Linked DNA regions of Homo sapiens: region 2 is linked to region 1. Evidence: fine-mapped expression QTL. A gene starts in region 1. The other region holds a variant in brackets. All regions are shown on one strand. Distances are from middle to middle. Region 1 holds the start of MROH8 (maestro heat like repeat family member 8). Region 2 overlaps RPN2 (ribophorin II).

Evidence for each region. PIP is the estimated chance that this variant, and not a neighbour inherited with it, causes the effect. A credible set is the group of variants that fine-mapping cannot tell apart.
Region 2: its variant is the best candidate, but not a certain one, in a credible set for the expression of MROH8 in spleen (GTEx, PIP 0.59).

Annotation. Positions count from the first base shown.
Region 1 is chr20:37,177,015-37,182,357 of GRCh38, forward strand. MROH8 (maestro heat like repeat family member 8) reads right to left here and starts at 2,534. Exons shown (of 25, transcript NM_152503.8): 1 at 2,375-2,534; 2 at 2,209-2,373. The coding sequence starts at 2,466. It overlaps RPN2 (ribophorin II), which reads left to right and starts at 2,316. Exons shown (of 17, transcript NM_002951.5): 1 at 2,316-2,355. The coding sequence starts at 2,343. RefSeq lists enhancers at 1,874-2,433, 1,942-2,021, 2,372-2,421, 2,434-2,991 and a silencer at 2,542-2,591.
Region 2 is chr20:37,241,429-37,246,802 of GRCh38, forward strand. RPN2 (ribophorin II) reads left to right here. Exons shown (of 17, transcript NM_002951.5): 17 at 1-191. Among named protein-coding and RNA genes, the nearest start is that of GHRH, 18 kb to the right of the region's middle. The variant G/A (reference allele first, on the strand shown) is at 2,999.

The DNA of each region.
Region 1 (5,343 bases):
AGAGATCCTGTTGCTCCACATCCTTGCCAACATTTGCTATTGTTGGTCTTTTTCTTTTTCATTAGTCAGGTGTGGTGGCTCCCATCTGTGGTCCACAGCTAGTCACTAGGACCACAGATGCGAGCCACCACACCTGGCTAATCAAAATTTTTTTTTTGTAGAGGCAGGTCTTGCTGTGTTGCCCAGGTGGGTCTCGAATTCCTGGACTCAAGTGATCCTCCTACCTCAGCCTCCCAAAAGCTCTGGGATTACAGACTGAGCCACCATTCCTGGCTGCATATGCTAAGTCTGTGGTGTAAATACTCCCATCATGGCCAAAATCAAGCTACCAATACTACCTTGGGAAGAGATGTTCAATGGCATACTGTCATATATTTCCACCACACAGTTACAACAGATATAAGCAACCACAAAAGCACACAAAACGTAAAATGTAGTGAAATAATTAGAAAATAATGAGTTTTGTTTTCAATATACTTTATTTCATCCTAAATTGATATAATTTTCTAAATGGCTGTATTTAACCAATTTGCAAAATTACTGCAAATTTAACAATGGACTCTCAAGATAGTATGAGACAGCTCCAGCACACCACTGGTTGGTTGTCTTATTCTTGAGCTGGGAGAATTCTTTATATATTCTACATCAGCACTGCCCAATGGAACTTTCTGCAATAATGAAGATGTCCTATAATTTTGAGTGGTCCAATCTGATATCCACTAGTTATCTGTGGCTACTGAGCACTTGAAATGTGGCTAGTACAAATGAGAGACTGAATTTTAAATTTTACTTAATTTTAATCCATTTAAATTCAAATTTAAATATCCACATAAGGCTAGTGGCTATCATAACAGACACAGAAAGAACTGACTCTCTCCCATGCGGGATAACATTTGGGACAATAATAACGTTAATAAGAGTTATATTGTGCATACTTTATATGTTCATAAAACTGTAGTTAAAAGCACAGATTCTGGAGTCAGCTGCCTAGGTTCAAATCTGTTTCCTTCTCTTTAAAATGGGATTAGCCTGTAATCTCAGCACTTTGGGAGGCTAAGGCCGAAGGATCCTTTGAGCCCGAGTTCCAGACCAGCCTGGGCAACAAAGCGAGACGCGGTATCTACCAAAAATAATTTTAAAGATTAGCTGGGCGTGGTGTCGCAAGGCAGCAGTCCCAGCTACTCCGGAGGCTGAGGCGGGAGGGAAGATTGCTTGAGCCCAGGATGTCGAGGCTGCAGTAAGCTGTGATCGCACCACTGCACTCCAGCCTGGGCGACAGAGCAAGATCCCGTATCAATAAAAAAGGAAAGAAAAGAAATAATGCTTGTAGAGCGTTCGGCACAGTGTCGGGTTATACTGTAAACATTCAGTAGTTGGCGCTAGTTATTAGAGCGGTGTTCCTGGATGAGCCACCTCCATGTTGAGCCTGTAAAACTGGCCTAATATGTTCTCTATGAGTCACTGCATTGCTCTGCAAATCAGATAAAACGTCACTCGTAGGTCAGTTATTAACAACCCCACTGATAATCTTTGGAAAAAACTGACATAATTTTCTTTTTCTTTTTTTTTTGGTGAGACGGAGATTTACTCGTTGCCCAGGCTGGAGTGCAATGGCGCGATCTTGGCTCACCGCATCCTCCGCCTCCCAGGTCCAAGCGATTCTCCTGCCTCAGGCTCCCGAGTAGCTGGGATTACAGGCATGTGTGACCACGCCCGGCTAATTTTGTATTTTTAGTAGAGACGGGGTTTCACCGTGTTGCCCAGGCTGATCTCGAACTCCTCACCTCAGGTAATCCGCCCGCCTCGGCCTCCCAAAGTTCTGGGATTACAGGCGTGAGCCACTGCGCCCGGCCAGAAACTGCCACAATTTTCTAAAGAGGAAAAAAAAATCCCTTCTAAGCTATCCCCTCCCGACGAGACCCTTCCTGTTCCTTTAAAATGGGCCGGGCAGCAGAAAGACGAGTGAGTGACAGCAGACAGGCCAATCAGAAGCGGCCCCGTCTCGGGCCCACCCCGAGGCCTGGCCCAACCGCGTCCCGGTAGCTCCCGGAATAGGAGCGTTGCGAGACGGTCGGTTCCAAGTGGGCCTGGGCGCGGGGGAGAGGCGGGTCTGTCCTCGGGAACTGCAAGGCCCTGTGAGCGGGAGGACTGGGATCCCGGCCGCGGCTGCTGGAAGCGTCGAAGCTCAGCGGGGCCGCGGACACTGACCTGTGCTTAGAACTCATCCTGGCCCGCAGAGCCTGCCGCGAGTCCCTGGCGTCCCCTGTGGCGGGCTCTTGGAGCCACTTTCCCGAGCGGAAGTCAGCCCGCGGCTCGGACTCCGGCGGGACCTGCTCGGAGGAATGGCGCCGCCGGGTGAGGAGTTGCGCGTGGCTTTGGGGAGAGGGCTGTCGCCCGCGGGAGGTTACTAGTCGCCGCTCGAGAGCCGGCCAGGCGGGATCCCCTTCCCCTGCGGGACAGGGGCATGGGCACAAGCTCTGGCTGGGGCGCTCTCGGATCGAGGGTCCGAAGGAGGGCTGCGAGCTGGTGGGAGTGCCCGCGACCTGGCGGGGTTGGTGCCTGGGGGAGGGGTGCAGCGCGGAGCTACGGGTCGCCCCGAGGCTCAGCCGTGGGGACCGCGGACGCGCTTAGCCTAGGTCTGGCCTCATTCATTTCACTCGCGCGGGCTTCTGGGCCAGGCGGCCTAAGGTTCTGGTCCCGGCGCTGCCCCTTACTCCGTGTGAGGTTTTGGGCAGATTGTCCTTCTTTGTGCTGTAGTTTCCCATTCAGTGAAAGGGGCAAAGAAAACCCTCACTTCTCTCTGGGAGCCTGGAGCATAAGTTCTCAAGTGACACTCTAGGTGCAAACTTGCAGTCGGCCACGTATTCATTGTGTAACCCAAAGCAGGTTACTTAACCCCTCTACACCTCAGTTTCTCATCTGTAAAATAAGTTAGTCAAATTAGTCACGTTATCTGCCTCGTTGAGTTGCTTTATTAAGTGAAATAATCTTCGTGCTTAGTTTAGAACAGTGCATGGCCCTAGGTAAGAACTAAGTTAACTGCATTGGAAGTTACTGAGTAGACGCTGTGCAGGGTGGAATTTCATGTAGCCTCATCGTAACTTTGGAAGCATGTACTCTTGTTACTACCATTTGACAGATGAGAAGTTGGAATCCCACGGAAGGGAACTTACTTGCCCAGGGTGACACATGAATGAGTCAGTGGCTCACCGTTTCATTATTTGAGAAGTTCAGGATAGTAAAGTGGTTAAAAGCAGACTTTGGATTCAAATTGCCTGAAGTTTGATTTTCAGTGATGTGTCCTAGGGCAGGTAACTACTTCTGAGCCTTACTTTCCTGGTCTGTGAAATGCAGAAAATAGCCACCTTGCTTAGATGTTGTGAGGATTTAATGATTTGGTGTGTGCAAAGCACAGCATAGCGTGGGCATACCTAACATATTAAGTGCTCAACTTTTAGTCAGAAAAGTTACTGCTCTCGTTAACATGGAGTGAGAAGATTAGGATTCTGACACAGGTGCTGTTTTAGGGGAATTTACGGTCTAGGTGGGAAAATGCTAGTCGCAGCCATTCACTAGATCTTCATATATTGGGTACCCGCCTGTGCACAAGGCATTGGGGATTCAGCATTAGTATCTTGACTCCGCTCTCTCTTAGGTCTTTCTGTCCATTAGCAGTTTCTGATAGGCTTTGACTTTGAATTCTAGCCAGACTAACTCTCATCACTTCTCATCATGTTCACTGCTGTTGCCCTGGTTTGGGCCACCATCATCTTCTGGCTTGGATTATGGCGGTAGTCTCCCAACTGGTGTCCCCTGCTCTGTCCTTGCACCTGCATGGTCTGTTCTCCACACAGTATTGTTTATTCTCAACACAGTAATACCATTAGAGTGTAAGTCAAATCACTCCTCTGCTTAGAACTTTCCAGTGGTCTCCAGCCGGGTGCGGTAGCTCACGCCTGTAATCCCAGCACTTTGGGAGGCTGAGGCGGGCGGATCACGAGGTCAAGAGATCAAGACCATCCTGGCCAACATGGTGAAACCCCGTCTCTACTAAAAAGACAAAAATTAGCTGGGCATGGTGGCACGTGCCTGTAGTCCTAGCTACTTGGGAGGCTGAGGCAGGAGAATCGCTTGAACCCGGGAGGCGGAGGCTGCAGTGAGCCGAGATCGCGCCACTGCACTCCAGCCTGGCAACAGAGCGAGACTCTGTCTAAAAAAAAAAAAAAGAACTTTCCAGTGGCTTCCACTACGGTGGTATACAAGGCCCTCTGGATTTGTCCTCTGCTACCTCTGTTACCTCATCTACTTCTTACCCTTTGCTTATTCCACTCAAGCTGTACTGTCCTTGCTGATCTCAAAAAACACTGTATGTGTACATACTCCTGATTCAGAATGTTTGCATTTGGTTTTTCTTTTCTTTTTTTTTTTTTTTTTTGAGACAGAGCCCCAGGCTGGAGTGCAGTGGCACGATCTCAGCTCACTGCCCACTCTGCTTCCCAGATCAAGTGATTCTCGTGCTTCAGCCTCCCTAGTAGCTGGGATTACAGGCCAAGTCACCATGTGCGGCTCATGTTTTGTATTTTTAGTAGACATGGGGTTTCACCATGTTGGCCAGGTTTGTCTTGAACTCCCGACCTCAGGTGATCCCCCTGCCTTGGCCTCCCAAAGTGCTGGGGTTAGAGGTGTGAGCCACTGCGCCTGGCCATATTGGGTTTTTCTTCTTAGCATAGTTTCCCACCAGATATCTTTATGACTTGCTTCTTCTTCAGATCTGTACTCAATATGTTTATTTCTTAGTCCTTCATAGACTACCGTATTTAAAATGCAGCCCTTCCCAAATATCTCTTCTGTACTTTATTTTTTTCCATAGCACTTACTTTGTAATGTGATAAATAATGTTATTTCATGTGATGTCTTTTGTCACTAGAATAGAAGCTCTTTGAGGGTGGGAGTTTTGTTTCTTTTGTTTCCTGCTGTATTTTTAACACCTAAAGTAGTGTGTGGCACATAGTAGCTCAGTATACATTTGATGAATACACCACGTGATAGATTTTTTCTTTTTTTAATTTAATTTTATTTATTTATTTTTATTTTTTTGAGATGGAGTCTCACTCTGTCACCCAGGCTGGAGTGCAGTGGTGCGATCTCGGCTCACTGCAACTTCCGCCTCCTGGGTTTAAGTGATTCTCCTGCCTCAGCCTCCCAAGTAGTTTGGATTACAGGCACCCACCATCACACCTGGCTAATTTTTGTCTTTTTAGTAGAGACAGGGTTTCACCATGTTGGCCAGGCTGGTCTTGAACTCCTGACTTCAAGTGATCCGCCCACCTCGGCCTCCCAAAG
Region 2 (5,374 bases), 64 kb after region 1:
AGTCCAGATTGTAGTTATACTTTTGCTTGTTTTTCAGTTTCCCCAACACACAGCAGATACCTGGTGAGCTCAGATAGTCTCTTTCTCTGACACTGTGTAAGAAGCTGTGAATATTCCTAACTTACCCAGATGTTGCTTTTGAAAAGTTGAAATGTGTAATTGTTTTGGAATAAAGAGGGTAACAATAGGAACAAAGGCCTGATTGAGAGCTTATTCTCATACTTTTGGGTGGTGGGGTCCTTGGGTATATGACATGAGGACTTAGTTGGAAATGCTGTTGATGCCAGCATATTTCTCCAGGCCTTTCTTGGTCCTTCTTGCCCCTTGCTCCTAACAGAACTGAGAACTGCCTGGAAAGGCCAGCTTCCTTTTTTCTTCTCCAGCAGTGAGCACCAGCTGTCTGCATAGGAGCCCTGTTGGTATCTGAAGGCCCCATTTGGACCTCTAGGGGTCCAAGGGGATAGGTTTTTATCCCCTTTAACATTTTCTGTGAGCTGAGTCCCATTTTTGAGAATCTTTCTGTGTTAGGTTAGATACTGAGTGTGACTTGGCAAGAACACAGCTAAACAACAGGAATGTGCAGGTGGACTGCAGCTAGGACCTCTGCTCAAGGCTCTTGTCTTGGGGCCAGGCATGGAGGCTCACGTCCGTAATCCCAGCACTTTGGAAGGCCGAGGCAGGGGGATCACTTGAAGTCAGGAGTTTTGAGACCAGCCTGGCCAACATGGTGAAACCCTGTCTCTACTAAAAAACCAAAATTAGCCAAGGGGTGGGCATGGTGGTGCATGCCTGTAATCCCAGCTACTTGGGAGGCTGAGGCAGGAGAACAGCTTGAACTTGGGAGGCGGAGGTTGCGGTGAGCCATTGCACTCCAGCCTGGGCCACAGAGCCAGACTCCATCTCCAAAAAAAAAAAAAAAAAAAAAGACTTGCATGGAGATTTGTTGCAACATGAATTTTCAAGGGACACAAATTCAAACCATAGCACTGACCACTTGAGTGACTTTAGTCTAGAAGGCCACATCTCAAGAATGCCCCCTCTGAAGTTGTGCCCATTACATGAGGTTATATAATAGCACAGAGAGAAGTAATACTGCATAGCATGGTTGACTGCGTAGACTTTGGTTCCAGGCAAACCTAGTGTTGCCACTTACTAGGGTGAGGGACCTTGGGCAAGTAGTTTAACCTCCGTAAACCTCCTTTTGTGTTTCTGTAAAAGAGAGATGATAACTACCTACCTCATAGGATTAAAGGAGTTGAATGCTGACGCAGCTTAGCACTTGGCATCTTTCCTGATTGACCTACGGTTATGTGCCTTGGCCCATTGCCTCTAGTTCTAGAATGGCAAAAACTGCAATTACTTTTGCACCAACCTAATATTAATTGAAACATAATAAGTTTAGTTAACTTGTGAAATATGGTAATCCTCATAGTATTTATTGAATTGGGGGTCTGGAAGTTGTTTTATTTTAATCAGATTGCTTCCCAACTAGCTGGACCTTACTACAGTGAAGAAATTGGGATTTTGATTGGGAAAAAGGGAAAGAAGATTCTAGAACTCTATGCCGTTCTGAATGGGATCCTATAGGTAAGAGGATGATGTGGGCAGTTACAGGGATGCCTCTAAGATGGGAAGGAGGCTTCTCCTTCCCAGAGGTTGCAAACTTGTGATCTGTAGTGTTTTTTTAAAAATTGAGTAAGTTGCCAACATTTGAAGACAGATTTTATATAAAAATCTTGGTTTTGGATTCTGGATTCTCCTGAAAGAGAAAACTAGAGCTGTCCACGGCGGGCCTGATTCCTGAACGGCAGCAGTCAGCTGACACTGAATAGCAGCTCGTCCCTTTGGATGGAGCCTGCAAGCTCCAGCTTGTCAGCCCCTCCCCGCACAGGTGTCCACATACAGGACACTTGCGCCAGTCCACCTGGCGACTGTGCTTCTCTGATACCTGCCTGGCTCCCATAGGCATATACCTTTGGGATCCTCCACTTTTTAGTTTCTTATCCCACTCGGAGGGGAAGGGGTGATGGTGGTTTCCTGTTGCTCTTGGGCGGCTCCTAGTGTTCCTACTTAGGTGTGCTGGGACCTCAGCCGCTCAGACTGGAGAGGAAAGAGAGCCCCAGCAGCGTGTGGGATGAGAGCAGGGACACTTGCCACCTATCACCAGACCTGTGCGGGCCTGGAAGACAGACTGGGTGCGGGGCTGGTGGACAGTGGTGTGGAGCAGGGGTAGTAGGGCCTGAGGGTGGAAGTACAAAGGCTGCTGGGTGTCCTGGTCACTGGGAACAAAGGACAGCCAGTGGCTGGAAGGAAGGAAGTCGGGAAACAGCTTTTTGGAGAAACGGCTGGCACAGCTAAGTAAGGGGTTCCCGGGCTGGTTTGGGGCTGGCCTGCAGACTCAGATGGGAGCTGGAGAACAGAGCCCAGTAAACATTGCCATGTGCCAGGCTGTGTTCTGTGTCCAGAGCTACCACAGGGAGCAAGACAGATCCAGTCCCTTCCCTTGGTCCAGGTACAGCCCACGGGCACCCAGCTGAGGGAGAAAGGAAGCAGTGATCACACATGTGAGAAGGGCCTCAGAGGAAGCAGTTCTTACCTTGATGGCTTGGGAGGTCTCAGCTGAGACCTGAAGAATGAGAAGGCGCCTATGCCAAGCTGAGGAAGAGCACTCCGGCCAGAGAATCAGCCAGCATGGAGGCTCTGGGGCAAGAGCACGGCACATTCTGACTGGAAGCAGGCCAAGCAGCCAGGGTGTCACTGGCAGGAACGGCATCCTCGCTGGGATAGAAGCCAGAACAAACTTGGCTTTTAGGGGCTGTGGTAAAGGGGACTGATTTTTCTCTTAGGACCTTTTTTAAAACAAAACAAACAAAGAGATGGGGTCTTGCTATGTTGCCCAGGCTGACCTTGAACTCAAGGGATCCTCTTGCCTCAGCCTCCTGAGTAGCTGGGACTACAAGCATGCACCATCACGCCTGGCCAGCCTGAGTTTTATTTT[G/A]GGGTATAGCAGAGGCAGATGCTGTCTGTCTGACCCTGCCCACTGGGCAAAGCCTTTTTTTTTATTTTTTATTTTTTATTTTATTTGAGACAGGGTCTTGCTCTGTTGCTCAGGCCAGAATGCAGTGGTGCAATCACGACTCACTGCAGCCTCAACCTCCCAGGCTCAGGTGATCCCCCCACCTCAGCCTCTGGAGTAGCTGGGACTACAGGCGCGTGCCACCACACTGGGCTAATTTTTGTATTTTTGGTAGAGATGGGATTTTGCAATGTTGCCCAGGCTGGTCTCATACTCCTGAGCACAAGCAATCTCCCCGACCTCCCAAGGTTCTAGGATTACAGGCAGGAGCCACTGCACCTGGCCTCAAAGCCTCTTAAAGGGACTCGGCTCTCAGTGCTGGAGCAGTGCTGCAGGGGAATAACCTGGTTGCTATAGCCAAGACAGTCTGGGAGTCCAGAGCTGACAGCAGGCCTCTCTCTTATAATTCATGAAATCCACTGGATTCATCACTCAAATGATTCGCTGCAGTAGCGCCTGGGCCTGGCCTTCTCTGAGGAGTACAAGACATGCCAGCTTTAGAGTCAGAGCTGCTTCGAGTTCCCCCATTAGCTGTGTGTCCTTTTGTACCTTTACCTCTCTGGGCCTTGGTTTCCCATCAGTAAAAATGGGGATCATACCTCTGAGGGTTTTATAGGGATTAGAGGAGGCCACAGCCACAACACATACCACAGTGCCTGACACTTAGCATTGAGTCAGTGTTTGCTCCCAATAGCGCAGATATTGTCATCATTATTATTTCCCAGGTGGTGTTAACAGGAGCCCAGTCAACAGTTTGTACCAGGTCTACATTCACCTGTTAGTTCAAGTTACTCGACACCCCAGCTCCCTCATTTCCTCCCCAGCATTTCCTGAGGGGCCTGGAGTCTTAAAGCAACCTTTTCGAGAGAGTGTTGCCTTCCCTCCCCGCCCCATCAGTCCCGTCCTGCCAACCTGGAGCGACTCTAGTTGAATCTGACCTCTAGTTGGATCCAGCTGGGCCAATGTGCCCTGCCCTGCCTTCCTCAGGGGCCTGTTGTAGAGAACAAATGAAGTAATGGATGGGAAGCCTCTTTGTGAACTCTAAGTTAATACAAACAGAAGAGATTATCATTAAAAGCGACAAGTCCCCCGTTGATTAGAGCATTTCTTTAGGGAGAAAAATAGCACTCCGTCTTAAGTAGGACCCTCCCCGGAGTGGGAAGCTCCCAGCTCCTCTGCGGGGCAAGTGGAGTCTCTCCGACGCCATTCGTGCCGTGGTTAATGGTATGGAGCACTGGAGTTGTTGCTATGGTGGTTTTTCCCCTATAATTGCATTCACCTCCAAAACCACAAGTAGCAGCAGGTCCCAGCAGTCGTTATTTTATTTGAAAAACTAATTGGAAGTTGAAAGAGCCCTCGGCTTTTGCTTTTGTCAGGATAGGCCAAGGAAAGAGATGAGCAGGTGGGTCTGGGAGGAAGGAGGGGGTCTTGGGGCAGGCCGGGCGCGCCTCCCATTCACAGCCCCTTCCTTTGTGCCTGCCTCTCTTGGTTGAAGTGGGCCACCTGCCCTCTAAGGCCAGCCTTTTCCTCCGAGGGGGCTTTTGTCTCCCATTGTTCTGATTGTCTCCTCCGTGGAGCCGCCTCAGTGGCCCCCTGCAGACGGTTTCCCAGGCTTCACGTTTTTTTTCTCAGGCGCCCAGGGAGAGCAGGTGGTCTTTACCCTGGAAGGAACTGAGTTGGTTATATAGTTCTGGTGCTGGGAGACCAGAGACCTGGCTGCCAGGCCCTTCGAGCTTGGGTCATTCCTTCCCTGACGACACTGTCTTAGGCTACAAAATGGAGAGGTGGGATTGTTCACTCCATCAATGTTAAGATGCTGTGATTCTTTTCGCACTTTTTTTTTTTTTTTTTTGAGACAGAGTCTTGCTCGGTCACCCAGGCTGGAGTACAGTGGCGTCATCTTGGCTCACTGCAACCTCCACCTCCTGGGTTCACGTTGATTCTCTTGCCTCAGCCTCCCTAGTAGCTGGGATTACAGGCCCATGCCACCACACCCAGCCAATGTTTGTATTTTTAGTAGAGGTGGGGTTTCACCATGTTACCCAGGCTTCTCTCAAACTCCTGACCTCAAATGATCCGCCCGCCTCGGCCTCCCAAAGTGCTGGGATTACAGACTTGAGCCACTGCACCTGGCCCCTCTTTTTGCACTTTTTAAATCAAAACAGACATCCCATCATCTAGACTTTTCACAGTTGTCAGGTTTTTTTTAGGTTTAATTTACGTACAGCAAAATGCACAGATCCTAAGTGAACAACCCAATGATTTTTTATATGTGACAACACTGGTATAACCACCACC